3 separate regions of the Homo sapiens genome follow, and all the other regions are linked to region 1. Evidence: fine-mapped expression QTL. A gene starts in region 1. Each other region holds a variant in brackets. All regions are shown on one strand. Distances are from middle to middle. Region 1 holds the start of TJP2 (tight junction protein 2). Region 2 holds the start of PRKACG (protein kinase cAMP-activated catalytic subunit gamma). Region 3 has its middle 51 kb from the start of FXN.

The links.
Region 2: its variant is fine-mapped to the expression of TJP2 in whole blood (TOPMed, PIP above 0.99).
Region 3: its variant is fine-mapped to the expression of TJP2 in whole blood (TOPMed, PIP 0.99).

The regions. Positions count from the first base shown.
Region 1 is chr9:69,168,229-69,178,206 of GRCh38, forward strand. It overlaps TJP2 (tight junction protein 2), which reads left to right and starts at 6,049. Exons shown (of 23, transcript NM_004817.4): 1 at 6,049-6,204. The coding sequence starts at 6,145. It overlaps LOC124902175 (a long non-coding RNA gene), which reads right to left and starts at 3,369. Exons shown (of 2, transcript XR_007061566.1): 1 at 2,428-3,369. RefSeq lists a silencer at 5,638-6,067 and an enhancer at 6,958-7,147.
Region 2 is chr9:69,007,078-69,017,055 of GRCh38, forward strand. It overlaps PRKACG (protein kinase cAMP-activated catalytic subunit gamma), which reads right to left and starts at 7,036. Exons shown (of 1, transcript NM_002732.4): 1 at 5,427-7,036. The coding sequence starts at 7,015. The coding sequence ends at 5,960. It overlaps PIP5K1B (phosphatidylinositol-4-phosphate 5-kinase type 1 beta), which reads left to right. Exons shown (of 16, transcript NM_003558.4): 16 at 1,370-2,099. The coding sequence ends at 1,372. The variant G/C (reference allele first, on the strand shown) is at 6,214.
Region 3 is chr9:69,082,027-69,092,004 of GRCh38, forward strand. No RefSeq gene overlaps it. Among named protein-coding and RNA genes, the nearest start is that of FXN, 51 kb to the left of the region's middle. RefSeq lists enhancers at 6,441-6,941, 8,219-9,188. The variant A/C (reference allele first, on the strand shown) is at 5,879.

The DNA of each region.
Region 1 (9,978 bases):
TTTGCTGTCTTTGTAATCTTTATACATCTATGATTGCTATAAAGTCAGCTTTGTTCTCTATTTCTAGAACCATCATGTATTGGAATGAGGAGCATCTCAATTCACAGGTCTATTATTTCTTGGGGGTGGGTGTCAGAGGGCATATGGCATTAGAAGCAGCTCTGTGTACAACTGAAAACAGTGTCGAAGCTATTTAGGATCTGGGAAGTGTACAAGTTAATTACCCCCACCCTCAAAAAAGAAAAAAGAGGAGGACTTTAACAAACTTTGAAAGTGATCATGAGGGCAGGACGCGGTGGCTCATGCCTGTAATCCCAGCGCTTTGGGAGGCTGAGGCAGGTGGATCACCTGAGGTCAGGAGATCGAGACCATCCTGGCCAACACGGTGAAACCCCATCTCTACTAAAAATACAAAAATTAGCCAGGTGTGGTGGTGGGCGCCTGTAGTCCCAGCTACTCAGGAGGCTGAGGCAGGAGAATCGCTTGAACCTGGGAGGCAGAGGTTGCAGTGAGCTAAGACGGCGCCATTGCACATTGCAATCCAGCCTGAGCAACAAGCGCGAAACTGTCTCAAAAAAAAAAAAAAAAGAAAAAAGAAAGTAATATATAATAACTAAAAGTGAAAGCATAAGGGGGAAGCAGAACGTTAGATGCCGCTCTCCTGGAGGTAATCACAGGGGCCATTGAGTGGGGTGATTATTGTGGGAGGAAGCCTGCAGGTGAACCGGGTGGTTATTGTTAACTGGTGTTTGGACTGAGGAAGATGGGTGGAGCCAGGAGAGGAGATGAGGCTACCTGGAAGTGGGGGCGGGGACGGGGGAGGACACAAGGCCTTTACTGAAAAAACATCAGGTCCTTCTGGCGGAGTTTTAGCTGCTGCCTCAGCACTTTAGTCATCTCTGTAGTTGAGCAATTCTCCTAACGTGTCACAATGTGTTTACATATCGTTGTCTTCAACACACTGTGAGCAGGCTCCCTTTTATAAATTGTCATTATCTTCTGTATAGCTACCCCAGGGTATATGGTAGGCATTCAAGAAAGGTTTGTTAAAGGAGAGTTACGATTCCAGTCTACTTTACAGTGTACACGTTAACTAAATTGTTTGGTGAACCTGTAAACTTTTCTCTTTTTTTTTTTTTTTGGGGGGGGGATGGAGTTTCACTCTTGTCGCCCAGGCTGGAGTGCAGTGGCGTGATCTCGGCTTACTGAAACCCCCACCTCCCAAGTTCAAGTGATTCTCCTGCCTCAGTCTCCCAAGTAGCTGGGACTACAGGCGCCTGCTACCATGCCAGCTAATTTTTTTGTATTTTTAGTAGAGACGGGGTTTCACCATGTTAGTCAGGGTGGTCTCGAACTCCTGATCTCAGTTGATCCATCCGCCTCGGCCTCCCAAAGTTTTGGGATTACAGGCGTGAGCCACCGTACCCGGCTGAACTTGTAAACTTTTCAGTGTTAGTTTTCTTTGCTCCCAGTTGATGATACTTTATAACCATATTGCAGATATATACATATATATATATACACACACACAGATATGTTTCTTAAGATCTCCACATTCTTGAGAAAATATGACTAAAAGGCATTTAGTTTATCTCATTAAGGTCTTCTGACCAACTTATTTCTTATTTTTTGAGACAGTGTCTCTCTCTGTCACCTAGGCTGCAGTATAGTGGTGCAGTCATAGCTTACTGCAGCCTCAAATTCCTGGGCTCAAGCAATCCTCTCCCCTCAGTCCTCGAGTAGCTGGGACTACAGGCACATGCTACCATGCCCAGGTAATTTTATTTTATTATTAGTTTTTGTAGAGACAGAATCTCACTATGTTGTCCAGGCTGGACTCAAATCCCTAGGCTCAAGCAATCCTCCTGTCTAGCCTCCCAAAGTGCTGGGATTACAAGCATGAGCCCCTGCACCTAGCTGACCAACCTATTTCAGAGACCTTATATATTGTAATATACACTGAAAAGTTGAAAAAAATTGTCCATTGCACAAACAATAACTAAATTTAAAAAGAAAAATATATGCACAAGCCTGTCTTTTCATGAAGTCATTTTTTTGCATACTTTCCAGTTTTTATTTTTTTTATAATTTTATCACTGTCATCATCATACATTAGATGTAATTTGTGTTTTTTTGTTGATAATTATAGCATTATCATTCTCCTTGTTGTATAGACTTCCTTATTACAATTTTAAATGATGGTCTGCTATGCCAATTATGTTGATTTACTGTAATTTAATAGCCCAGCCCACCATCATTGGACATTGGTGGTTTCCATCATTCATTATTAGATACAGGCATATAGTGAAGTGCTGCCTCATACCTAGTCATCCACTGTAATCTAACCTCCAGTCGTATCTTTCCATTGAAAAGCTCTGGCCAAGATAAGCAGTGGTCCTCCACTTAATGAACATCATCAGTTCTTACCTTAATTGACCTCCTCGAAATTCCATGTTGTTGGCCTCTCCCTCTTTCCTGAAGTTTGTTCTTTCCTTGGCTTTTTGGACACTCTCCTCCAGAAGCGTTTTCTTTCCTTTCTGGCAGCTCCTCTTTGGTCTCTGTTCTGGCAACTCAAGTCTGCCCCCTAAATATTGGCATTCCCAGAGATGAGTCCTGTCCTTAGTCCTCTCTTGGCTTAATCTACATCACGTCTCTGAATGTGGGATTGTCCCCTCCCAAGACTTCAACTTTTATGATACATTGATGATACCCAAATCACTCCCAAATCTCTCTCCTCAAATACTCATCAGTGCCTAGCACATAGGAGACACTTGATACATATTTGTTAAATTACTGAACATCTTCACCTGGATGACCCATAGCACTTGAAAATCAGTCTGTAACTAAACTCATCATCTTTCTTCAAGCTCCTCCCAAGATCTGCTCCCACTCCTGTGTTCTGTTTTGATAAAAGCCACCGTCATCTCCTTTAAGTAAGCCAGAAACCTGAGAGTCAGCGTAGGCTCACTTCCCGCTCGCGTCTCCCCATATCTAGTCAGGCAGTCATCCAGCCTGCTGATCTACTTCCTTAGTTTCTCTAGAATCTGGCTCCCTTTTGTCTAACACTGCCTAACTTCATAGCCACGTCATCTCTCACCTGCATTCCCACAAAAATGCATTTTTGGCCGGTCTTGTCATTCTTACTAACATTCTCCTCCCCCACCAACCCCTGTCCCCCACCAACTGTCAAATCCATCTTTATACTTGCCTGGGCAACTTCACCTTCTGGCACCTCAAGAGTAAGCCTGCTGTCTCTTCCTTCCTTACTTCTCTCTGTGTTATTTATTCCCCTTACCTGGAAGGCTTTTTTCCTTCTTTGTGTCTTAAAAACTCATTCCGACCTCTCCTTTAGAATGTATAAGCAACCCCATCTCTGGAAAGCCTTCCCTAAGTCTCTCCTGCTAGACCACTCTGAGCCTGCCAGGAATCTCAGTGCTTACACAGTTTATCATTACTTGTTGATTGTCTACTGCAATAGACTGAGTTTCCTAAGGCAGGATCCTGAGTATTTTATCAAGGGGTTGACAGAGGTGTTCAGTAAGTACCTGTTGAGTAGAAGAATTTTTTTTTTTTTTTTTTTTTTTTTGAGACGGAATCTCGCTCTGTCACCAGGCTGGAGTGCAGTGGTGCAATCTCGTCTCACTGTAACCTCCGCCTCTTGGGTTCAAGCGATTCTCCTGCCTCAGCCTCCTGAACAGCTGGGACTACAGGCGTGCGCCACCACGCCCAGCTAATTTTTGTTATTTTTAGTAGAGACGGGGTCTCACCATGTTGGCCAGGATGGTCTTGATTTCTTGACCTCGCGATCTGTCCGCCTCGACCTCCCAAAGTGCTGGGATTACAGGCATGAGCCACCGCGCCCTGCGGAGTAGAAGTTCTTTGGATAAACACATTCTAGGAGTGGGGTCAAAATGTGCAAACCCACACGTGAAGAAGATGACTAATAAATTGTTTCTCCAAAGAGTTGTATTGATTTACACTGCCACCAGCAAAAAAGCTAATATATCAACTGAACCGTGTTTCTAACAACCATTTACTGAATGCTTATCATCTGTCAGGTGTTGTGCCAGAAGAATGGAGTTTGTCTATAAATATTTCATCATTTCGAGTAGTGCAGTCCAACAGAACTTTCTGCATTGATGGAAATATTCTATATTTGCACTGTCCAATAGGGTAGCTATTAGCCACATGTGGCTTCTGAGCCCTTGAAATGAGACAAGTGTGACTGAAGAACTGAATTTGTCATTTCCTCTAATTTTAGTTAATTTACATGTAAATGTAAACACTTACTGGTGGCAAGTGGTCATCTTATTGAACAGTGCCGCTCTAGAGAGAAAAAAGGAAATCAGTCAGTAGATGTAACTGCCACATTCTGGATTATTTTTTAAATGTTAGTGGCTCTAAGCCCACATCATTAAGGTGTGGCCACCTTTCAAGTGCTATCATTTTTATTAGTCAGCACCACCTAATTTGGGAAATATTTTATTTTTTTTTCCTTTTTTTTGATTAAAACAATTTTTAAAAAATAGAGATGGGGTCTCACTATGTTGCCCAGACTGGTCTCAAACTCGTGGGCTCAAGTGATTCTCCTGCCTTGCCTTCCCAAAGTGCTGGGATTACAGGCATGAGCCACCGTGCCTGGCCAGATTTGGGAAACATTTTATAAATAGGTGCTTAGATCAGGAGAGCAATGCCTTACATCAGGAATACAACCAAAATGTCTAAGTCCGGAGACTCGAGGCAAAGTGGGAAACGTTACTCACAGTGCTTTTTATCCAGAGGCGTGGACTTAGTTACTCCAAAGGAGTCCAGAAGCATAACACTTCTGGAGAGGCATCTACTGGACTTGTTTTTCCACGAAACTTCTAGACTTGTTTTGATCAGGCAGGAAGTGAAGCAACTTTTCAGGGAGAGAGCCCAGCATCTGCATCTCCTCTGGGACAGACCACACCTTTTACCTTCTACTTGTGAGCCTAGGACGAGTTTTGCTTTCCAATTAAGGGAAGAGCAGGGCAGGCAAAACTATTCTCTTACAAGATGGTTTTTTAAGATTTCAAACCCAAGGTTATATTTTTAATCGGTACCTGTTTGGATTCTCCAAATTAATTTATATGCTCTTAAAATAAAGACACTTAACGTCACTGCACAATTCTTTGCACATGGAGGACTTCGAAAGGAATAAGCACACTGAATTGCATTAGATGAATCCTGTCAGATAAGCACTTGTGACCTACTGGCAACCTTTTATAAGCTGATGATGGGAGAGGAGTTTCAATCTCTTTATTGGAGTTGTTGGAAATGTGCCAAAGAGATAACCTGGAATATATTGTCCTGAAAAGTCCTGTTTTAATATTTAATACGAACATCTTATAACCCTCGGAATTCGGGTAGGCAGTTGTTGGGCTGAGAAATGTGGGGTACAAGGCCGTGTATGTGTTGGTTAGCCGGGCAGGCCTCTAGACAGGACCTAAAACTTTGAGGTTTTCCCAGTTCGACTCTTCGTAGGAGAACTGAAGCTGCCTGTGTGAGGCCCTGCGAACCTCGCCAAAAAGTCTTCCTACAGGATGCCCCCGCGACCTCACCGGGGAAACACCGCGGACAGTCGGGCCAGCAGCGCCCGGAGCTCACTCCAGGTCTCCAAACTTGCAGCACTTCCCAGAGCGCGCGCGCTCGGAGCGGGACCTGCTTGCTCCAGTGCACGCCGCGGAGCGAACCATCGGGCTGGCGGGGGTGGAGGGGTGCAGGCGTGGGGGCTGCGGGCCGCTCGGGCCTTGGGCTTCTCCTGCCGCCGCCGCCGCCTCCCGCCCCCGGCCAGGAGTCGCGCGTGACGCGGTTCGCCGCAGGAGCCTCGAAGGCGCGGCGCCGGCGAGCCCTTCCCCGGCAGGCGCGTGGGTGGTAGCGGCCAATTTGACAGTTTCCCGGGCCGGGCGGCCAGCGCGGAGGCGCCACGCTCGGGTCGGGGGCGGGCTGACGCCGCCGCCGCCGCGGGAGGAGGGACAAAGGGGTGGGTCCCCGCGGGTCGGCACCCCGGCGGTTGGGCTGCGGGTCAGAGCACTGTCCGGTGGTGCCCAGGAGGAGTAGGAGCAGGAGCAGAAGCAGAAGCGGGGTCCGGAGCTGCGCGCCTACGCGGGACCTGTGTCCGAAATGCCGGTGCGAGGAGACCGCGGGTTTCCACCCCGGCGGGAGCTGTCAGGTTGGCTCCGCGTAAGTGCCTCCTTGTGCCGCGCGGTTGGGAGGAGGGTCGTGAGCGTGAGCGTGGGAGCGCTGGGGGCTCTGCTCGCGTGCTGCTCTGAAGTTGTTCCCCGATGCGCCGTAGGAAGCTGGGATTCTCCCATCCGGACGTGGGACGCAGGGGAGGGGTAGGTTTCACCGTCCGGGCTGATGACTCGTGGCCTCCGGGGCTCCTGGAACCTTTACTCTGAAGTCACTTGGGCTGGAGATTAAGGCGCGAGTAGGGGACACTGTCTTGAACCCGGTGTCCTGGATTTCTGCTGGCTTGGAGGCATCTCGTGTCTGTTGTGTCGCTTGCATGTCTTTGTGTTTTCCTTCTCTATTTCAAACCACACTCGGTATTGATGCAAAGTTACAGGCTTGTGTACGTGAGAGAAACTGAAAACTCATCACAGAGCAGAATCCCTTTTCCCTTTCAATCAGCTGCGTCTGTAATAGAAGTAAAAGTTGTTTTTTTTTTTTTTTTTTTCCAGTAGGGAATGGGGATGGAGGTTTGGAAGGACCCACAAAAGAGGAGTGTGATGAATGCTTTGTATTCTAGTACTAGCCTACCTGTCACCAGTTCTTTTTATGTCTTCATTTGTCAAGTTTCTGCTTTTACACGGTAGTTTAAGTTATAAATAATCAGGGATTTCTACCACAGGGTTTTAACATTCTTGAAATGTGGACAAACTTGGGAGTGAGTGCTCCCGCGCTTAGTAATGGAATACAGCCTCCCACCTCTATTTCAGCTTCAGTTCTTAGGCTAGGCTGCTTTTCTGGCAGCTGTCTGGCCTGAGTAATGATGGTTGTGGTTTCCCTGAAGTTCCCAGCGGAGAGTCATCCCATGATAGAAACTGCCTTGCGCTTCTCACTCACGCTCTCAGCCCGGGGAATCCCAGCGGGGAGGAGGGAGGGAGGTCGTTTTCTTCAGCTCCCCAGGTGGTCTGTGCTGGGTGTGCTGACGGTCCTTTTGGGAAAACAGGTCCACCTTTGCCAGCGTAATTCAGAAAGAGATGTAATTTTCTGAGAGCACACACCTGGGCAGGAGATCGCTTGAAGTGAGAAATTCGTAGTGGTAAATGTATTTGTAGCAAAGTACCACTGCATATCCTGCTTGAGAGGATGAAATTTGATTATTTAGTAAGTTTTCATGAACAACTCCACTTCAGTGTGGGGATTACGCAGATGAGCAAGAGCGTGGCTCTGTCACACAGTCCCGTTGGGAAAGCCTGCAACTCATTAAGAATCCGATGAGTGCCATTTAGAAATGTGGACAGGGTACTGGAGCTTCCTCATTGTGGGGAGATGGCAGAAGCGGAGGTGCTTTACTAAAGCACCGGTGGCTTTTGAGGTGTTTCTTGTGTTTTTTTCAGAACTACTTCTGCAGTGGGGCCACTTTATTTCTTTTCAGAGCTACTTATGCAGATTGATGAAGGGGAACTTTCCCCTCTGAAATGCTGCTGTAACTTTTTCAGTACCATCCAGATATTATAATACTGAATGAGCCCCTACTCCTGCCAGTCACTGTGGGGGATACAAAGATGAACAAGATTCAATTTCTGCATTTAGGGGTCTAGTGGACCTGAAACTGTTAGACTTTACTCTGCAATCTGTGTCGGGATTCCTGAGACTGAGGGAGGGAATGTATGATGCCGATGCACACTCTGCAATACAGAAATTTAGCAAAGAGTGGGATTGGTCCTATATGCATTCCCTTCAGGGGATTCTTGCTGGGAATAAAGGGCATTTGAACAGTTACCTCACCCGAGCAAGCCACTATAGAAAATGGGGCCAGTAATGCGCCCACCTCACCGGGCTGAGTGAGGTCTGAATGAAATGACAGAGAGTACAAGGCATGTGGTGGATGCTACGTAAATGGTGGTAGCTAGTAATAGGAACAAAACGGGTGCTGAAAACTCTTAAGTGTTGGGTCCTGGGTTGATAAGGGAGGTGAGATCTAAAGATACAAGTAGGAGGTGCCAGGTAGGTGTCCAGGAAAAAACTGAAAGAGTTGTTGTTCACACTCTGTTAAAAGGCCTTGAAGGCCATAACGAAGCTTTGGGTGGGGGGAAGTCAGAAATCCCTCATGTATTAAATGACTTGACTTTCCCTACAAAAGAAGCGAACCAGTTTCCCAGTAAACATCCCACCCCATAACTATTTTTGAGGCATTCATAGGCTTAAGACCAATGAATTTTTACATCACCCCCGGGGGAATTGCATTTGCAATGACTTCTGCCTACATTTAACTTTTGATCTAGTTCTTTGTACACTGACAAAAGTTCACAGCCAACCATTTCTCTTCAGGACAAGTGTGAGAACTTTCTGCATACTGCTGAAGGCAAGGGAGATTTTGAGTTTAGCAAGGTTTTCTCTCCTTAAGAAGGTTATCTTTTTACGAGACACAAGTTATTGAAACTAGGCGGGGCCACTTTAGTCCTGTGTACAATAATATGTGTAGTAATATAAATAGTAATTTAAAAAGTCATGCAGACTTGGTTGGGGAGAGGCATGAAGTTTGGGTGTGGTGGGGGCGGGGTGAAGCGGTAGAAGGGTTCGCAATCACTGCTGAAACTTTCAACATATTCTACCAACAATATGAGCCACCAGGGAATTCCTTGCCTCATCTCTAGAACGAATCCCATTAAGCAGTTGTGGCTACAGATGAATTTATCTAGGTTGAGAGCTGATTCCCAATAACATGCCTCATTGATTTGACTCTAAGCAGTAATCAGGGGCCCAACAGTTGTTGGACCAACCAGCCTTGATTTTCCAGAGAAGGTGATTTGGTATATGGTAGTGTCTGAGGGTGAGATTGCCCCAGATGGGAGTGGAGGGAAGCAGAACAGTTTTCTCTGGTGTTTTACTGAGTTTTTGTCTTGATCCTAAATCCAAGGGTTAGGGTCAGAAACACAGACTCAGAGGTTAGATTTAACACCCATTTAGTGGGTTAAACACATCAATGGTTATGTGAACTTTGTTAAGGTTTAAAAAGCTATTTAGGGCCTGTTTCTCCCTCATAGGAATTTTTGCAATCAGCCTTTTTAGTAGATGCCCATATAGAAAGTGAATTTGGGAGGGTCTAAGGTGGTATTACTATTAAACTTTTTGAAAAGGCTGTGTGATAGCAATGGAAAAAAAAATTCAGGCATGGAAATCCAATATGCAGTATTGCAGTAGCTAGTTTTAATTTTATTTTTGTTTTTTTGGTTTTTTTTTTGGAGATGGAGTCTTGCTCTGTTGCCCAGGCTGAAGTGTGGTGGTGCGGTCTTGGCTCACTGCAACCTCTGCCTCCCGGGTTCAAGCGGTTCTCTTGCTTCAGCCTTCAAAGTAGCTGGGATTACAGAAGTGAGCCACCGTGCCCGGCCACTAGTTTTAATTTTGGATGGTACCTAGGAAAGCAGTTGAGCTAGTATGCTGCATACATTGTAGTGTGAGAGGCAGAGTTCCGAGTTGGAGAGTGTCTGCTTCCACTTTTTCCATTTGATTAGGAAAAGCACTTCTTAGAACTGGGTGACTGACAGCTAGAGCCCCAGAAGACCTGCACAAGCTGGGGCAATGGCTACCCATAACAGTGACGGCTCCATTCTGTTTTTTAAAGGGATTGGTGTCTCTATCATCCAGCTGGCCATTAAACAACCAAAGCTTCATCATCCTAGATAACCTGTGAGCTCTCAGAGGAGACAGAGTAAGGACTATCATACCCCCAAAATACCTAATCATTTAATAAAGCATTTTCTCTACCTTTTATGCTATCCCAAAACA
Region 2 (9,978 bases), 160 kb before region 1:
TGTTGTGCATTTAGCCAAGCAAACCTTTCTAGCTTAGGTGAATGAGAGGGAGCGGCCAACGTATAAAACAAAATAGTAAGTTCATAAAAATTACAGTGCACAATAGTCTCAGATAAAATATTAATTGTTAAACAGAATTCCCTGTATGTGACATGTTCTCTTTCCTAATAATTTTCAGTTATTTCAAACTTTTTACTCAAGTTTTTTCAAGCCTCCAATTAAAGGTGCTGAGCTGCACCAGTCTCTGTGACCCCCAGCTCCAACCTTCTTCACTACAATTTTGGGGGTACTAGCACATGCCAGGTACAGTACTCAATTATAAATATATGATTTGTGTATATCGTGTGTGTGTAAAACACTTCATTTTCCCCATGGAAAAATTTATCCCTCACCACCACCCTATAAAGTAGAGTTTGTTACCTCCACTTTATAGATGAAACAACAAGGTTCCAAGAAGATGTTGCATAATATTCTACAGATGAAATAATTAGGAAATCAGGCCGGGTGAGGTGGCTCACGCCTGTAATCCCAGCACTTTGGGAGGCCAAGGTGGGCGGATCACTAGGTCAGGAGTTCAAGACCATCCTGGCTAACACAGTGAAACCCCATCTCTACTAAAAATACAAAAAATTAGCCAGGCGTGATGGCAGGCAGCTGTAGTCCCAGCTACTCGGGAGGCTGAGGCAGGAGAATCTCATGTACGTGGGAGGCAGAGGTTGCGGTGAGCTGAGATCTTGCCACTGCACTCCAGCCTGGGCAACAGAGTGAGACTCCATCTAAAAAAAAAAAAAATAGGAAATCAGATGATTTGACCCAATGTGTCTGTCTCTAAAGGCTGAATATAATATTGCTTTCCCCACATATATCATAGTGCTGCTGTCACAGGTTGAGTTAGCTGGCTCTGATTTTAAATAGCTACCATTTAAATAGCTACCATTTGCTGAACATATTGTTACCACCCAGCCACAGTGATATTGTTTGGAAAAAAACATTTACAAGTTCAAGGCCATGTTCAAGTTGTTCTTTTTGGCTTCAGATCTAATATACCACAGCACATCCCCTCATCCCTGTGCACTTGGAGGGCAGGAGGGTGTCTTAGTCAGTGTTGCTTCCTTCCAAGTCCCGAGCACAGTGCTGTGATGTAGTCAGGACTCAATCTTGATAAACATTGGTGTAATTAACAGGTTTCAGGTCCACCAAAGAAGTATATGCTATGCTGATCATTGCAGAAGAATCCCAAACATAATGCACCCCATTTTCCAGACACAAGTGATTGGGAGAAATAACGAACTTATGTTGCGACTCATGGGGAGAGGTTACAAATTGATGCCAAAATCTAGTCTCACACCTGCTTTTTTGCTCCCCCCAGTAAGTGAAAATGGTGATCACCTAAGCACATGGATGAGACGTGAGCACAGTTATGGCAGAGAAGTTTCTCCGCACCAGAATTATCCACAGCAACTTGGCTGAGCCCCACTACACACAGAGAAATCATCAACCTGACTTAAGAGTTTTCAAGATGTCAACTTCAGGCTGATCAGCAGATGGGATGTGAAAAATACTACCCTATTCTATCATTTGCTGTTGCTTGCTGAACTGTGAAGAACTGCATGAACTATATTTAAGCTGCTTTCTGTACCATTGCCAATCACCTTTTTGGAGTTGGAAGTGCTATTTTCCTATGGACTTTTGCATTATTTCATTGTGCATGCATCCAGTGATTATACATAAGCAACATATGTAATCTGCTTATATATTTTTAAAAATCCATCCACACACATGGTAAATTAAGTATAAATTCTTTTGCAAAATTATAGTTCATGTCATTGAAAGTTTAAATTGGTTTCATTTAAAGATCAATATACTAGGTCTGCCTTCACTTTATAGAAAACTAGCTTCTATAAAGATTTTTTCACTGTTTACTAGTGAAATGAGAAAAGCAAAGCTATTTATAAAAGGCCTTATGTCGTGTACATACATTGTCTTTGAAATATTTGTGATCTAGTTTATTGCTTGTAAAAGAGAAATTATATAATTTATTTAGTAAATACTACTGTAAACTATAGTTTTGTGAGAGAAATAAAATATTTTGTTCTCAATTGTGGTGGTACATCGATTCCAGTGATTTATGGTCTTTCCATTTCTTCTTTTATTAAAAATAACCCAAATACTCCTCATTTGAGATATTCAGAAATCCTAAATAAACTGAATTTCATGATGGATAAAAATGGGAAAAACTTCAATAGCAGCTTCTGCTGAACTCATCCAAAGACTTTCCCAAATGTCCTGGTATATTAGTCAGCTTTCACTATGTTATGCTATGGTAACAAACAATCCCAACATCATAGGAGCTTTCACCAACATAGTTTTACGTCTCCCTCACATGTGGGGACCAGCTGCAGCTCTGCTCCAAGAGTCTTCTTCATTCTGGGGTCCAGAGCAGCCCCTATGTGGGACAGGCAACTTTCATGGCAGAGAAAAAGAGCAATGGTGGAACCAATGAGAGCTCACAAAGCTTCTGTCTCAGTGCAGCTGACAGCATTTCTACTTGCATTCCATCCACCAACATGAGTGACATTGACAGGTCTGGAGTCAAAGGTGTGGGATGTACACTTCTCACATGGGAATGGACTCAGCAATGAATATTTTAATTAATTAATACAGTTTACACCACCTGGTAAGTGTCCCTAGCAACAGAGACATAAGAGGTTGAGAGAAAAATCATTAGAAAGCAAAATGATCAAGGCTGCAGAAAGATATTCCTGATGAGTAAGATGCTCAGTGTTAAATACTTCGAGTTAAAACAAGCTGATTCTTGTAAGCAAGCATGCTGTAAACTTTTGTAAATGTAGCCCAGAGCCATAGTTACTCAGCATAAGTAGCAGTTTCACCTGCAGAGTCAGTGCTGGAAAGCTAGGATGTCTTACATCCTAGGTTAGGATGTCAACAGGGAATTCTGCAGAAGTGGATGATTGAGGATCCTCTGCCTCTCTCTAGTATTCATATGTGCTACCACTCTCCCTTACTACATGGGTTTTCATAGGTGAATCCCACTCTTCCCCCCTCCCATTTGTAAATCTACCCATTTAAGCAGGGTTCTTAGCCTAGGACCCACTGATTTCTAGAAGAGTCATAGATAAATGTTAATAGGGCCATGAAATCATATACACAAGTTGGGTATGCTTTTGTGTATATGGGGTGTTTTTTTTTTCATGAAGAGAAAGACTATACTTTTTATCAAATTCACAGTGACCTGGACCCAAGAAATGTTAAGAACCTTTATTTTAAGACCTAACTCAAAAGCCGTTTCAATACCATGAGGCTGTGATCCTCAAAACTCTATCCCCACTTGAATCACCCGTGGCCTGCCTGTGTTGTCTCACCTGTCTCAAAAAACCTCAACATTTTCAACCGTTTTTTAATGACTGAGGTATAACTTACATATGCTAGAGTGCACAGCTATGAATTGTATAGTCCAGTGAATTTTTACATATGTGTAGACCCATGTGCCCAGCACCTAAAGCGCATAGAAAACATTTGCAGCTAACCTACTGGCTTTTTTTTTTTTTTTTTTTTTGAGACAGAGTCTCGCTCTGTCGCCCAGGCTGGAGTGCGGTGGTGCAGTCTCAGCTCACTGCAACCTCTGCATCCCGGGTTTAAGCAATTCCCCTGCCTCAGCCTCCCGAGTAGCTGGGATTACAGGCAGCTGCCACCATGCCTGGCTAATTTTTTGTGTTTTTAATAGAGACAGGGTTTCACCATGTTGGCCAGGCTGGTCTTGAACTCCTGACCTCGTAATCCGCCCGCCTTGGCCTCCCAAAGTGCTGGGATTACAGGCGTGAGCCACCGTGCCTGGCCACCTGCTGGCTCTTTCATGTCCCCTCTCCACCAATGCCATCCTCAAAGGTCACTATTATGACTTCCAGCATCATAGATTAGTTTTGCCAGTTCTTTTTTAACAAAACTTTATTGGTAATAGTTGGTTTTTTGTTTTGTTGTATTGAGACAGAGTCTCACTCTGTCACCCAGGCTGGAGTGCAGTGATGCGATCTCGGCTCACTGCAACCTCTGCCTCCCAGGTTCAAGCGATTCTCCTGCCTCAGTCTCCCAAGTAGCTGGGATTACAGGTGCATGCCACTACGCCCAGCTATTTTTGTATTTTTTAGTAGAGACGAGGTTTTGCAATGTTAGCCAGGCTGTTCTCAAACTCCTGACATCAAGTGATCCACTTGCCTTGGCCTCCCAAAGTGCTGGGATTACAGCACCCGGCCTTATTGGTAATAGTTTTGACATATGTTTACAACAGCACACTGTTCAAGAGGAAATCTCATCTTTTCACAGCAAGCAGGTTGAATCACCCTGAGCCCACCTGGGGACCCACCCCAGGCCTGAGAGCTCCTCCTGGGATGGGGAGAAGTGATGAGAGGGGGAAATATGAAGATGAATGAGGTGGCTTGCCAGCAGCTCCTCACTTTTCTATTAAGAAAGAAAACAGACCAGGGACGGTGGCTCACTCCTATAATCCCAGCACTTTGGGAGGCCAAGGCAGCTGGATCACCTGAGGTCAGGAGTTCAAGGCCAGCCTGGCCAATGTGGCAAAACCTCGTCTCTACTAAAAATACAATAATTAGCCGGGGATGGTAGTGGGCCCCTGTAATCCCAGCTACTCGGGAGGCTGAGGCAGGAGAGTCGCTTGAACCCGGGAGGCGGAGGTTGCAGTGAGCTGAGATTGTACCACTGCACTCCAGCCTGGGTGACAGAGTGAGACTTCATGTCAAAAAAAAAAAAAAATTGAAAACAGCACGGGGTGGCAGGGGAGAAGAGGTGAAGGATGGCTGACAGCTAAGCTGGAGAGGGGCACCCAGGATGGGAGAAGGCAGAAGCTGCTGGGTGAATAAAACAGGCAGCCCCTCCCCAGCAACCCTAGCCTTGAACCCTGGGCGATGAGGTGGGGGTGGAGGGGCTGGGCCTCTTCCATGTCCTTTTGCAGGACTGCCTTCCCATAAGGAGAGGCTGGGCATCACAATCTGGCTGAGAATAAAATTAAGGAGTTTCGGGGAAATGCTGCTGTGAAGAAAGACTTGGGCTTGGAACTCCCACTCTGTCTTTTTGGGGGACAACTCCTCTTTGGCAGGGAGTAGGGCAGCTGCTTTTCTGGCTCCCAAAGCCCAAGGGTGAAGAAAAGTCTGCTGGGGAAGAAGAGAGTGGAGCTTCCTAAAAGAACTGAGACCTTTGCAAGAGTGATAGAGGATGCCCCTGGGGAGGGGGGAGGGGGAAATCAGCAGTTCATGGGGGAAGTTCAAACCCCAGAGCCTCCTTCCAAAGTCAGTCGGCTTCCTGGATTTGTTAAAATGGAATGGGGAGACACGGTAAGGTGGGAAGGGTGGGAGGGGTGGAAGTAGAGGAAGGAGGAAAGGGGACACTGGTGGAACTTAAATAAGATTTTAATTGTTTTTTGTTTTAATTTTTTATTCTAGCAAACAGCCCACTGAACATGGCACTAAACCTCTCTCCTTCCCAGGCAGGATTACGCCAAAGGGTAGGTGTGCTTTTCATTCATCCTCTCTTAGTAAGTGGTGCCTGTTCAGGGCTGGAGTTAAGTTTGAGCCCCTCTTTCCACACCGTGTCCCTTGATACAACAGCAAGACCTGGCCTGAATAGAGCTGAGAAACTCGTTTAAAACAGGCAGAAGGGGGCTGGGGCAAGGGGGACCCTGTGGGAGGAGAAAGAGAGAAGCACAGAGGGACCAGGAAGGCATGGGGGGGGGTGAGGGAGCAGCTGGTGTTTCTGTTCCTCCAAATATCTGGGCTTCCTGCTCCCCCAACCCTGGAGGGTGGGGTGAGGATGAAATTAGATACAAGGAACTCTGGGGCCCTCTGGCTGTTCAATCCAACCCTCCCATCCCCCAAACCACCAAAAACAAAAAGGAAAGAAAACCCACAGGGGCACAAGCACACCCCTAAAACTCAGAAAACTCCTTGGCACACTTCTCATTGATGGAGATCCGGAGCTCTTCCTCCTCGTAGTCGTCAAAGTTACTGGCATCCCCAGGGCCTGTGTACTTCGGGATGAAGGGAGCTTCCACCTTCTTCTCATAGATGGCGATCCAGCTGGTTGTGGCGAACCACTTGTGGTTCTTGATGTCGCCAACCCCGTTCCTGAGGTTTCCGAAGCGCTTGGTGAGGTCCACCTGCAGCAGGCTCCGCAGCAGAT[G/C]CTTGAGGTCAGAGCTGAGTTTGGAGGGAAACCGCACCCTCCCAGAGACGATCTTCTCGTAGATCTGGATGGGCTGGTCGGCGTAGAAGGGTGGGAAGCCCACGGCCATCTCATAGATGAGCACCCCTAGGGCCCACCAGTCCACGGCCTTGTTGTAGCCTTTGCTCAGGATGATCTCGGGGGCCAGGTACTCTGGGGTCCCGCACAAGGTCCAAGTGCGGCCCTTCACGCGCTTGGCGAAACCGAAGTCCGTCACCTGCAGGTAGCCCTGCTGGTCGATGAGGAGATTCTCGGGCTTCAGGTCGCGGTGGATGAGGTCGAGCGAGTGTAGGTACTGGACGGCCAGGACGACCTGGGCGGCATAGAAACAGGCATGGGGCTCGCTAAACCTTCCGACGCGCTGTAGGCGGGAGAACATCTCCCCACCCGGCACGTACTCCATCACCAGGTACAGGTAGGAGTTGTCCTTAAAGGAGAACTGGAGCTTGACGAGGAACGGAAAGTCGATCGCCTGCAGGATGCGCTTCTCGTTCAGTATGTGCTCGACCTGCTTCATCTTCACCACCTTCTGCTTGTTGAGGATCTTCATGGCGTAGTGGCCGCCGGTCTCCTGGTGCCTCACCAGCATCACCCGCCCGAAGGAGCCCATGCCCAGCGTCCTGAGCCGTTCGAACTGATCCGAGCTGGCGGTGTTTTGAGCGGGGTTTCCCCATCTGTAGAGGAAATCTCCTCTGGCTTTGGCTAGGAACTCGTTCACGCTCTCCTCCTGCTCGGTGTCCTTCTTGGCGGGGGCGTTGCCCATGGCGGTGGCGGCGGCAGGGGCGGGGGTCTCGCGGCGGCGGCGGCGGCGGCGGCAGCGGCGGAGATGGCGCCCCCTGGGGCTGGCTGCGCTGGCTGCGGCGCTGCGACCCCCGCCCGGCCTCCGCTTATATTCCCAGCTACATGGGAGGCTGAGATGGGAGGATTTCTTGAGCCTGGGAGGTCAAGGCTTCAGTGAGCCAAGATCACGCCGCTGCACTCAACAATATGGATAAATCCAAAAGGCATTATGCAAGTGAGAGAAGCCAACTCTAAAGGAGACTTACTGTATGAATCCATTTCTATGACATTCCAGAAAAGGCAAAACTATAGTGTGAGAGAACAGATCAGTGATTGCCAGGGCTTGGGGTTAGGGGACGGTTGGACTATGAAGGGACAGCCTGAGGGAATGTGGGAAGTGGTGGGACATGTTTGTATCCTGATTGTGCTGGTGGTTACAATGTATTGGGTGGTGGTCTACATTTGTTTTAAAACTCATAGAACTGGCCGGGCGCAGTGGCTAAAGCCTGTAATCCCAACACTTTGGGAGGCCGAGGCGGGCGGATCACAAGGTCAGGAGTTCGAAACCAGCCTGACCACCATAGTGAAACCCCGTCTCTACTAAAAATACAAAAAAATTAGCCAGGCGTGGTGGCGCATGCCTGTAATCCCAGCTACTCGGGAGGCTGAGGCAGGAGAATTGCTTGAACCTGGGAGGCAGAGGTTGCAGTGAGCAGAGATCGTGCCACTGCACACCAGCCTGGGCAATAAGAGTGAAACTCCATCTCAAAAACAAACAAACAAACAAACAAACACCTCAAAGAACTGTATACTTCCCCCCAAAATTCAGTTTTACTGCATGTAATGTTTTATTTTAACACATACATATGATTTCCTTTCTTCTGTTTGCTTTGGGTTTAATTGCTCTTATTTCCTAAGGTGGGAACTAAGGTCACTGATTTGAAATCTTTCTTCTATTACAATCACTTAGTGCTATAAATTTCCTCCTAAGTATTATTTTTTGCAGCATCCCACAAATTTTGGTATGTTGTATTTTCCTTTTCATCCAGCTCAAAATATTTTCTAAGCTCCCTTTTCATCTTCTTTGACAGATAAGCTATTTAAAAGTATATTATTTCGTTTCCAAATACTTGGGGATTTTTCAAGAATTTTCCTATTGATTTCTGATTTAATTCCATTGTTAGAAAACATACTCTGTGTGACCTAAAATGTTTTACACTTCTTGGGGCTCATTTTATGGCCCAGAATATGATCTATCTTGGTAGATGGCCCATATGCACTTGAGAAGAATGTATATTCTGGTGTATTCTGCTGTTTGAGGATACAGTGTTCTACAAATGTCACTTAGGTCAAGTTGGCTAGTAGTAGTGTTCAGGTCTTCTATATTCTTATTGACTTTCTGTTTACTTATTCTATCAATTATTAAAAACATGCCACAGGAGTTTATGAGAAGTCAAAGTACATAGATGATGGGCCTTCCATCACTCCCCCAGGCCACCATGTCAGCCGCCCCACACACCCTCCAGAAGACTGCCAGCACTCAGCCATCACAGGGTGGGTTCTGAGCTGCTCTCCCCAGTCAATTCTGTACAAAGATTCTGTCCTACATCATAAACACTGAGCTACAGGAATACCCATTTATCCTCCTATTTTCTCTCCATCTTGCCCTTTAAGTTTGACAGCTAATTCTGCCTACCCACCCTGGCTACACCGCCTGTAGCTAGTGCAAGTAAACAACACACTTTCACCTAGCCCTGCAGGCTGAAACCAAGCAAATTGGAGAGGAATCCCTGATTACTTGACTCCAAGTAGAAGGTTTCTATTGTGACTGTGAATTCTTGCCGCTCAGTTCAGCAGATGTTGGTCAAGCAGGTGTCTATTGTGTGCAAGGCCTGGTTCCGAGTTTACGGTTTAATCTGGGGCCAGTACTTGGGTACTGACTGTATATTCAGAGACGGTCAGGTTAGAGAGGAAGAAGAGGAAAGGAGAAAAATCTACTGTTGATCATCTGAACTTCCACAAAAGGGAAACCCACATTCCCTCAAGAACATAGCAGGGGGGTCAATTGCCCCTTGTGCTTTGGGTCAAGGCAAATCCCTGGCAGATGGAAATTCCACGTCTCCCCCATAATCTCAGTGATTTCCTCTTCATTTTCATCACAGTAGATCTGCTAAAATTCTGCCCATTTCTGACTTACCTCCAGATTATTCAGTAGAAATTTATACACAAAGAGCAATTAGTGGGAAGCCATTCTCTTGGACCGACGCCTTGGAAGTGGGACAGTTTGTTTAGAAGCAGGCTGTGCCATTCCATGACAAATTCTTGTGGCATTAATCTCTGAAGTTCAATTAGGAAGACACAGGGGTCTAGAGGGAACATATGCTGCACACTAGAAATGTCCCCATGCTTCGTTTACAGGTCAGAACATCAAGTATTTATCCCAGAACAAGCTGCAGAATAATTACATTTGTTATTTCTCTCCACTTTCCGTTCTGCTTTTCTCCATGGCCTTGGGGAGCAAGGGAGTCCTTAGCATGCCAAGGAAACAGGAATCCTTTTGCATTCAGATAAACCCTTTCAGAAGGAAAAGATTTGTGTAGCAAGATACAATACCTCTGCATGATCTGCTTGGAGCTTGCCTAGGGGGCCAAATGAAGAGGTGAAAGCCAACTCTGCTTTCCTGTATGCCCAATGAAAGGCAATCAAGACCATTCTTCTCCCAAAAAACTGCTCACTGGCAGTCATGCCAGCTGATTCTCCTCTTTACTGTTTATATAGCAGTTTCCAAATGGCTAATTGCATAAGGCTTGGATCATTCAATTCTAACTTCCTCTCTATCTCCAAAATATTGATGGGAGCAAAGAAAAGAACAAACTCCACCAGGATTCAAATAAGAAATAAACTACAAATCTCTATCACTCAGGGAATTATTTACATAACACTGCA
Region 3 (9,978 bases), 86 kb before region 1:
TTGTAACAAACCTGCACATGTACCCCCTGATTCTAAAATAAAAGTCGAAGGAAAACAACAAAAACAAAAAGAAATAACTCCTGAGTTGGGGTCTCCATCTCTTAGTTCAGCCTATTGGCAGTCCCCTTTTTCAAGTTCTAAGGAGCCTGTACTAGACTACTCTTCATTTAGTCCCATAATAATCCCTCTTTCAATTATTTTGCCTTCAAACCTATAGGGAAGGGATTGGAAATGAAGTTTCAGTCATTCCCTAAGTAAAATGTATATACATATTTTAATTGAAACAGGATTTCACTCTGTTGCCCAGGCTGGAGTGCAGTGGTGTGGTCATGGCTCACTGCAGCCTCAACCTCCTGGGCTCAAGCAATGCTTCCATCTCATCCTCCCAAGTAGCTGGGACTACAGGCTCGTAAATTTTTTAGAGAACAAAAACACAGTCTTTAGATTTAAACATGTGAAAGCAGAAATTTTAAAAATACAATGAAAGAGTTGGAAGACAGAGTTGAAATTGTTCAGAAATTACAGTAAAAATACTAAGAGATAGGAAATAGTCAACTTCCAAATGAGAAGAATCACGAAAGAGAGAACAGAAAAGATAGAAAAAAAATTATCAAAGAAATAATTCAAGAACATTTCCTTAAAGTGAAGGGCATGAGATTCCAGGTATATTCCACATATAGAAAAATATCCCATACAAAATCACATTGTTATGAATTTTCATAACATGAGGGACAAAAAAAGATAATATAAGTAACCAGAGAGGGAAAAAATAAATAAACAAAACAAGACAAATAGGTCATATACAAAGTAATATTCATCACAATAGCTTCATAGTTCTCAATAATAACAAAAAGCCTTTAAAATTCTGGTTGAAGCAGTTCAGACAATGCCATCACCCAAAAATATGCCATTTTGGCATACTGATTATTATTAGCTGAAAGCACTTGAGAAACAGCAGACTGTACAGGAAGGGCTTTCCAACCTCCTCTTTTCTACCTAAAAACAGGCTAGAAAATTTCCCATGATAAAGGTGCCCTCCCTCTACTAGAAAGAGAAAAACATCCTTATCACCAGAGATAGGGAATCAATGCCAAAATGGATCTGAACAAACTTATTGGAATAACCCTTGTCTTCCACTACTTATCCCCAATATAGCTCTTAGTAATTTCCCCAAGCCCCTTTGTCTTGTCATTTCTTCACAAATTTATCATTTCTTTGTCTAAAACATATATAAACTTGTCTGCTATGGTGACTTCTTCGGGTCTACATTTGCTTGTGAGGACTCCCAGGTACATGTAAAATTGTAATAAGACTTGCGTGCTTTTCTACTGTTAATCTTTCCTGTGTCAGTTTAATTCTTAGGCCTAGCTGGAAACTTAAGAGGGTAGAACAGAAATTTTTCCTTTCCTACATGGTGAAGGGACATTCTGTAATAAAACTAGCCTCAACATTAAAAAAATGTGATGTAATAAAAAACAAAGGAAAAAGAAAACAAAACAGAAAAGCAATTAATAACACTAGGAAACACGAGGCATTGTACAGGATAGGAAACGTCCTGTTATGTTACACAATGCAACAGTGGGTATTGTTTTCATCATTATTATAATGAAAATGCTAAATAGTGATTTGACCAACAATCCAGTTTAAAACATTTGGAGGAATGTGAATGTTTATGGCCAGAAAATGGGGAGAAAAATGGTTAAGGAAACAAAATCTCATCATCTAGAGTGGGAAGGAGACTGATAATTCCTAATATGAACCAAAAACTCAAACTTTTTTTTTTTTTTTTGAGATGGGGTCTCGCTCTGTCGCCCAGGCTGGAGTACAGTGGCACGATCTCAGCTCACTGCAACCTCTGCCTCCCAGGTTCAAGAGATTCTCCTGCCTCAGCCTCTTCAGTATTTGGGACTACAGTTGCACACTATGATGTCTGGCTAATTTTTGTATTTTTAGTAGAGATGGGGTTTCGCCATGTTGGCCAGGCTGGTCTCGAACTCCTGACCTCAGATGATCAGTCCGCCTTGGCCCCCCAAAGTGCTGGGATTACAGACATGAGCCATTGCACCTGGCCTGAAAACTCATTTTATTTAGATATGTTAAGGGAAATCTCAAAATAATCAGCTAGAAAAATTGAAAATGGTTGCCCATGAGGAGGGGAGAACTGTTATTATTTATGTCAAATAAAATTTGTAGGAAGCCATTGATTTGGACTGTGCTCCTGCACTAGGCCCCAATAGACCAAACCACATGGAGTCACTCTTGCTAAAGTTCCACGTCACCAAACCAAAGCTAAGTAGTTTATCTTACCTTCTGGGAAATTAGGGGAGAGAAATAATAGACAAATCCCCAAACAGGCCAGTTTTAGCTGGCATATAAGGAAGTCCTCTCTGTTTTAACCGTATTAGGAGAGTAACTTTGAAAAGACCGTCCACTTTTTGGTCCCTGTTTCTGTTTTCTTCTGCCTTTTCTGCCTATAAAGCTAACTTCCTCTGCCCAGCTCACTGGAGTACCTTCTCTGAATTTTTAGAAGACAGGCTGCCCTGATCCATGAATTGCAAATGAAAGCCAATTAGATCATTTAACTAAATTCATTGTAATTTTGTCTTTTGACATTTGTAAACAAGCCTTGTAGTACTTGCTAAACAATGGGCTGGGCGCAGTAGCTCACACCTGTAATCCTAGCACTTTGGGAGGCTGAGGTGGGTGGATCACCTGAGGTCAGGAGTTCGAGACCAGCCTGGTCAACATGGTGAAACTCCGTCTCTACTAAAAATTCAAAAGTTAGATGGGCATGGTAGCATGTGCCTGTAGTCCCAGCTACTCAGGAAGCTGAGGCAGGAGAATTGCTTGAATCTGGGAGGCAGAGGTTGCAGTGAGCTGAGATAGTGCCACTGTACTCCAGCCTGGGCAGCAGAGCAACACTCTGTCTCAAAAAAAAAAACAAAAACAAAAACAAAAAAACAACTTGCTAAACAACATATGTTTATTATTTGGTAAATTATAAACAATAAATTCAAAACTTTAAAAAGAAAACATTTTATTGATAGCTCACTGAATACAAATTTATAAAATATTATTTATGCATTAAGTTTCAGTTACACATTTTCACCCATCATTACAGATGTCATATGGAGTTGCTAGAGTATGAGAAGAGCTTCTTCATCCCAACAGCTTTCAAAGTGAAGAGGCGACTCATGCCTGTAATCCCAGCACTTTGGGAGGCTGAGGCGGGTGGTTCACTTGAGGTCAGGAGTTTGAGACCAGCCTGGCCAACATGGTGAAACCTCGTCTCTACTAAAAATACAAAAATTAGCTGGGCGTGGTGGCGCACACCTGTAATCCCAGCTACTCAGGAGGCTGAGGCAGGAGAATCACTTGAGCCCGTGAGGTGGAGGTTGAAGTGAGCCAAGATCATGCCACTGCACTCCAGCCTGGGTAACAAAGCAAGATTCTGTCTCAAAAAAAAAAAAAAAAAAAAAGTGAACATCTGGGTCCCCCAGATCTCTTCAGAGATATGTAATGTTCTCCTTTTTCCAACTACATAACTCTTTAAGCTGGGTTTTCTTCATATACTCCAATGAAAACAACATATTGCAACAGATGGAATGAAGAGGCAAGTAGAAGAATCCAGCTGTTTTCTATTAAGCCAAACATTACAATTGTCAGCTGAAGAATTCTGAGATTCATAAATTTGGAAAGAAAAGCTTCATTTCTCATAAAAGATTGCAGCCTGCAGGGTGGCCATTCTGACAGGCTAAGAAATGTAGTCTCTGGCCAGAAGCCAAAAACAGACACTGAGGGTCAGAAGAATAAGATGGGCATTTATGCTGAATAGGATGGCCAAATATACATATTCAATAAACTACAGTCATGAATATTCATGAAAGGAGAAACATGCACATGCTCAATTGAGCTTCATGCCTCTCCATGGGACGCGTGTGCAAAAAATGGCAGCATTAGCATGATCAGAGGGTGGAGTTTTCTGTCCTCTGATATCAAAAGGTGAAACAGAGGACACAGAAACCCTCACTGCACATCCTCTGTAAACTGGCCAGAACCACTCCATTGTGGGCAGTCTGTTATCAGGAAGGAATGCTGGTTAGTTGTGCAGAAACTGCAAAAGGAAGGGGCAGTGTCAGACCATTGGTTGATATCAGCGGTGCAGCTCGTCTTTCCAAAGGGCTGGTTTCTGTTTAACCTGTAGGAAGGAAATCCTAATGGCGTTTAGCAATGGAGAGGGTATAACAACACATCATGGCAAGAACTCAGTTTTCAAGGTTTCTCTGGGGTCCCCTTGGCCAAGAGGTGGTGCATCCGTTTAGTCAGCTGGGGGACTTAGGATTTCATTTTTATTTCTCAGAGTTTTATAAAACTCTAAAATAATTATTTGACAGCCAGGTGGGAGGGGGTCCCTGGAGAAACTCCAACCAGCCTGCCTACTAGGGTGGAGCCTTGGGAGTTTGCAGCAGGGAGGAGCCTGGCGCCTCCTCTTCCTATGTGAACCTGGGATTCTAGCAGCCTGGTGGGAAGCACTGTAGCAGGAGACTCTGGCCTTGCAGAGGATCCCTGTTCCCCTCATCCCTTTATTTCCCCTTTTCACTTAATAAAACCCTGCTTTACTCACCCTTTAAACCATCTGCAAGCCTAAATTTTTGTGGCTGTGGGATAGACAAGAACCTTCTCTTTAGCTGAACTAAGGAAAAGTCCTGCAATGATCCCATTCTTCACACCAAATATGTTTTGTTTCAAAAGTATAGTTATTTATCATAAATATGTCATTAATATTGTTAAATCAAATTTAGCCTAAAGCTGCCTCCTTATATAGTTTAAGCTTGACCTAAAGGTTTCTCTGTACTTAGTGAATTGTAGCCTACCCAGATGTGTAAACAAGACTGTGAACTACTCTTGTGACAAACATTGGATTTTGGCCAATCAAAGGAGGTCAACTCTTGACACTGCTTTCAAATAAGGCAAATATTGAGCTGTAAACAATCTGGCTGTTTCTATACCTCACTTCTGTTTTCTGTACGCCACTTTTCTGTCTCTGTCCATAAATGTTCTTCCACCACGTGGCTGTGCTGGAGTCTCTGAACCTACTCTGGCTGAGGAGGCTGCCCAATTCTCAAACTGTTCAATTAAACTCGGTTAAATTTAATTTGTCTAAGGTTTTCTTTTAACCATATAAACAAGTGAGTTTATGATTGTTATGTCTTTTTTCTTTTCTTTTTTGAGACAAGGTCCCACTCTGTCCCCCAGGCTGGAATACAGTGGCATGATCACGGCTCACTGTAGTCTCGCACTCCCAGGCTCAAGCGATCCTCCATCTCAGCCTCCTGAGTAGTTGGGAGTACAAGTGCATGCAACCATGCCTGGCTAATTTTTTTTTTTTTTGTATTTTTTGTAGAGATAGGGTTTTGCTACATTGCCCAGGTTGATCTCGAACTCCTGAGCTCAAGTGATCCTCTTGCCTCAGCCTTCCAAAGTGCTGGGACCACAGGCATGAGTCACCACACCCAGCTATTATTTCTAAATTAATGAACAGATGAACATTTTCAAAATTTCTCAGTTTTAATTTTAAATATGATTAAAAGGATAGATATAACACACAAACAAAAGCTCTATGGAGTCCTCTATAACTCAAGAATATAAAGGGTCCTGAGATTTTTCTTTAAAGAGAACCACTGCACTCTCCTGGCCTACTAGCTCTCCGCAATCCATCCTGCTTCTCCCCTTGGCAGGAGAGACCTGTTCTAGACCCTCAAGGACCCCTCATAACATCACCTAGCTATTATCTAAGGAATCTTTCTCCATTTGGACTTCCCATTTTTTTCTTCCCCCTTTAAGGTCCCCTTATTCTTTTCATCTAATTTTGTGTGCC[A/C]CCTGCAGAGTCCTTCTTCTTCTTCTTCTCCTTCTCCTTCTCCTTCTTCTTCTCAGAGTCTTGTTCTGTTGCCCAGGCTGGATTGCAGTGGCACGATCTCGGCTCACTTCAGCCTCTGCCTTCTGGGTTCCAGTGATTCTCCTGCCTCAGGCTCCTGGGTAGCTGGGACTACAGGTACCCACCATCATGACTGGCTAATTTTTTTGTATTTTTAGTAGAGACGGGGTTTCACAATGTTAGCCAGGATGGTCTCTATCTCCTGACCTCGTGATCCGGCCGCCTCGGCCTTCCAAAGTGCTGGGATTACAGGCATGAGCCACCGCACCCGGCGACTAATTTTTTTTTTTTTTTTTTTTTTTGAGACGGAGTCTCACTCTGTCGCCCAGGCCGGACTGCGGACTGCAGTGGCACAATCTCGGCTCACTGCAAGCTCCGCTTCCCGGGTTCACGCCATTCTCCTGCCTCAGCCTCCCGAGTAGCTGGGACTACAGGCACCCGCCACCGCGCCTGGCTAATTTTTTGTATTTTTAGTAGAGACGGGGTTTCACCTTGTTAGCCAGGATGGTCTCGATCTCCTGACCTCATGATCCACCCGCCTCGGCCTCCCAAAGTGCTGGGATTACAGGCGTGAGCCACCGCGCCCGGCCGGCGACTAATTTTTATATTTTTAGTAGAGACGGGGTTTCGCCATGTTGGCTGGGCTGGTCTTGAACTCCTGACCTCAGGTGATCCGCCCGCCTTGGCCTCCCAAAGTGTTGGGATTACAGGCATGAGCCAACGCACCCGGCCTGAGTCCTGCTTCTTCCAGATCTGGTGCCCAGTCCTGACGCCAGAAAGGGGGTCTTGTTCCAGACCCCAAGAGTGTTCTTGGATCTTGCCTGGGAAAGAATTCAGGGTAAGTCGCAGAGTATAATGAAGTTAAGATAGTTAATTAGAGGCTACTCAATTACAGAGTAGGGCATCCTCAGAAAACAAGAGGAGGAAGGCGCTACCTTAAATGTAGTGCTTGCTTATGTAGGTTGTATAAGAATTGTGTACTTTATTACAAAGGCTTGTGATCAGCTTGTGACAGGCTATTGGTACTGTTATTTTCCTGTTACTATTGATTTCAGCAAGAATTTATGAGTACACTATTATATTTAAGGCAAAACCTATTCCTTAAGAATGCTTTTTGTTCTTAAAATACTGGGACATTTCCATAAGTTCTGAGTCTTTAGTTAGCAACATTAACTCATTCCCTCAATCATAAACATCTCATGACCAAGAGTGCCCAGTTCCTGGGGAATGTAACCCAGCAGGTTTGGCTTTATTCGGCCTTTATTCAAGATGGAGTCACTCTGGTTAGGACACCTCTGACAGTCCCTGGAAATCCAAAGGAACCCTTCTGTGTGGCACAGGGAATGGAAGAAAGAAAGAGATGAGGCAGGAAAATAGGGTCTGGAGGCAGAAAACATAAGCCGATTCACACTTCAGCTATGACAGGAAATATCCTCTCCATAGGGCGTATGCCTGTAACTTTACTTCATCCTCTTCATTTACATAGGACGTATCCTAAGTAACCAATGGAATCGTCTAGAGGGTATTTAAACTCCCAAAAATTCTGTAACAGGGCCTTTGAGCCCCTATGCTCGGGCCCGCTCCCACACTGTGGAGTGTACTTTCATTTTCAATAAATCCCTTCATTCCTTCCTTGCTTTCTTTGTGCTTTGTGCATTTTATCTAATTCTTTGTTCAAGACGCCAGGAACCTGGACGCCCTCCCCTGGTAATAGAGAGATGAGCCTTTCAAATGACCTGACTCCTTTATCCCAGCCAGGTGTGTGCCCGACCCTGAAAGGAGGAATAGGGAGGGGGACGTTCAACCCGGCCTCCCGCTCTGTGTTAGCAGCGTCTGGATGGGTCAGGGTGGAGGTGGGGGTGTTCTACCCTGCTATTTGCTCCTAGAGAAGCTTCTCTGCTTCACTAGTCTCACAGTTCTAAAGGCAAGAACAGCCCTAGTGGGATCTTCCAAGGATTTTAGAAAAGAATGAATAAGGGAAAAATTAAAATATTGCAGGGTGCCATAAAAACATCCCAGTAAAACAAACACCTTTCTAGATGCTCATTGGAACGTAAATGGAGCTCAGCCCCCATCCCTTCACACCAGATCCAGTCTTCATCTTTGTGGTTCACTGCCCCCTCACCACTCAGGAGGAAAACCCCAGCTTCTGTTCTGGCTCCCCTTCTCTCACTTAGAATTTTTCACCAGAGTTTCAGAAAGATTTGTCAGGACCACTCCATGCCCAAGGTAAAAAGTGTAAGTGGTACAAAAAGGTAGAAACTCATCAGACCCCCAAAGAGTGTCATTTAACCATACAAAGCCCTGATAAACTCCAGGGCAGAAGAAAAAGCTGCATCCTTGACTCCACTGGGGCATTCTTATGTAAACTAAGATCCAAGAACTGCATCAGGAGAGAAATCAAGAGCCCTGGGGATGTTAGGATGAGCCCTAGAGGTGCTAAGACAGGTTATTTGAAAAACCAAAAAGTAGACTGAGATTCCCTTCCTTTTCAGGGAAGAATTGAGACCTTTCCTTTCTTACTGTTCAGAGTGGGGGCTGATAAGGGTAATTATTTCCTGGAGCCACTGGCTACTGCCCTGGGAAGGAAATCCGCTGGGTTGGGGGAGGGAGGAAGGCAGAACCAGGCATTAACTCTCCCTCCACTACATCCCTTTCCCGTACCCCTCCCCTCCTCTCCTTCCCCCCACTCCCTGCCCCCGCCCTCCGAAAATGACACTTGGCCTGAGAAAGGAGGAAGGTAGAATAGGTGGACACTTCCCTTGTCCTGCTCCAGGGGTGTCTCAGTGACAAGGAGATGTGAAAAAAGAAGGAATCCCAAGGCTCCCCTTGGAAAGAAGGGAGATCTCCAGGGGCTTTGGGAAGTCAGGTTAGTACTGGGAAGGCTGAAGACTCCCAGTAGATAGCGTTCAGGGCTGCATTTGGCTGCAATCCTATAAAATACATTCTTCTCTAAGGTTGGATACAAGCATTTAGAAGACTGGCCATTAAAAAAATAAACAGTATTAATAATATTAATAATCATGAGTGTCAGTAGTGTTGAATTTTTTCTGGAATCCTTTCCCAAGTTGCCTAATGCCCAGAGAAGGAAAATAACAGTGTTTAGTAGACATAAATTATAGGATTAGTGCAAGTAGCTATTGAGATGATGAGCCAAGGCTTGTAAATTGGTTTTGTTTTGGTTTTCCTAATTAGATGTTTGCGCCTATCTGTGTATGTGTGTGTGTGTTTGTGCGTGTGCATGCTCGCATGTGGTTAATTTCATGACTTTTGCCTCTGGCTCTTCCTGATTAAAAAAAATACTTAAAATGGTAGGAAGTGGCACACACCCTTGATGGACCTGTGTTTATATTAAAGAATTGGCTTAGTAAATTTAACTGGGACAAGGAAACTGTGAAGGACTGTATTTTTGCCATTATTTAATAATTCATATATTCAACCGTTACTGATTGCCTATTTTGAACCAGGCCACGTGCTAGGATACAATGGTTAACAAACACATTCCCTCCCCTCAAGGAATTCATGGTCTAGTGAAATACAGAGATAGAAAAGAAATAGAAAAGTATATCAATAAAATGCATTGTGGAAAGAGTTATGGTCATAGTGTGTACTATATGCTTATAGAGGCTGCCTTTGTATAAACATACATAAGACTGCTTTTTAAATTATAAAAGGCAGTACATAGGCCAGGCGTGGTGGCTCACACCTGTAATCCCAGCACTTTGGGAGGCCGAGGCGGGTGGATCATCTGAGGCCACGAGTTCGAGACCAGCCTGGCCAACATGGTGAAACCCCATTTCTACTAAAAATACAAAAAAAAAAAAAAAATTAGCCAGGTGTGGTGGTGGGCGCCTCATCCCAGCTATCAGGAGGCTGAGGCGGGAGAATCACTTAAACCCAGACGGAGGTTACAGTGAGCTGAGGTGGAGCCATTGCACTCCAGCCTAGGCAACAAGAGCAAAACTCCATCTCAAAAAAAAAAAAAAAAAAAAAAAGGCAGTACATAGTACAAACTGCTTGGGTTTTGTTGTTGTTGTTTTACT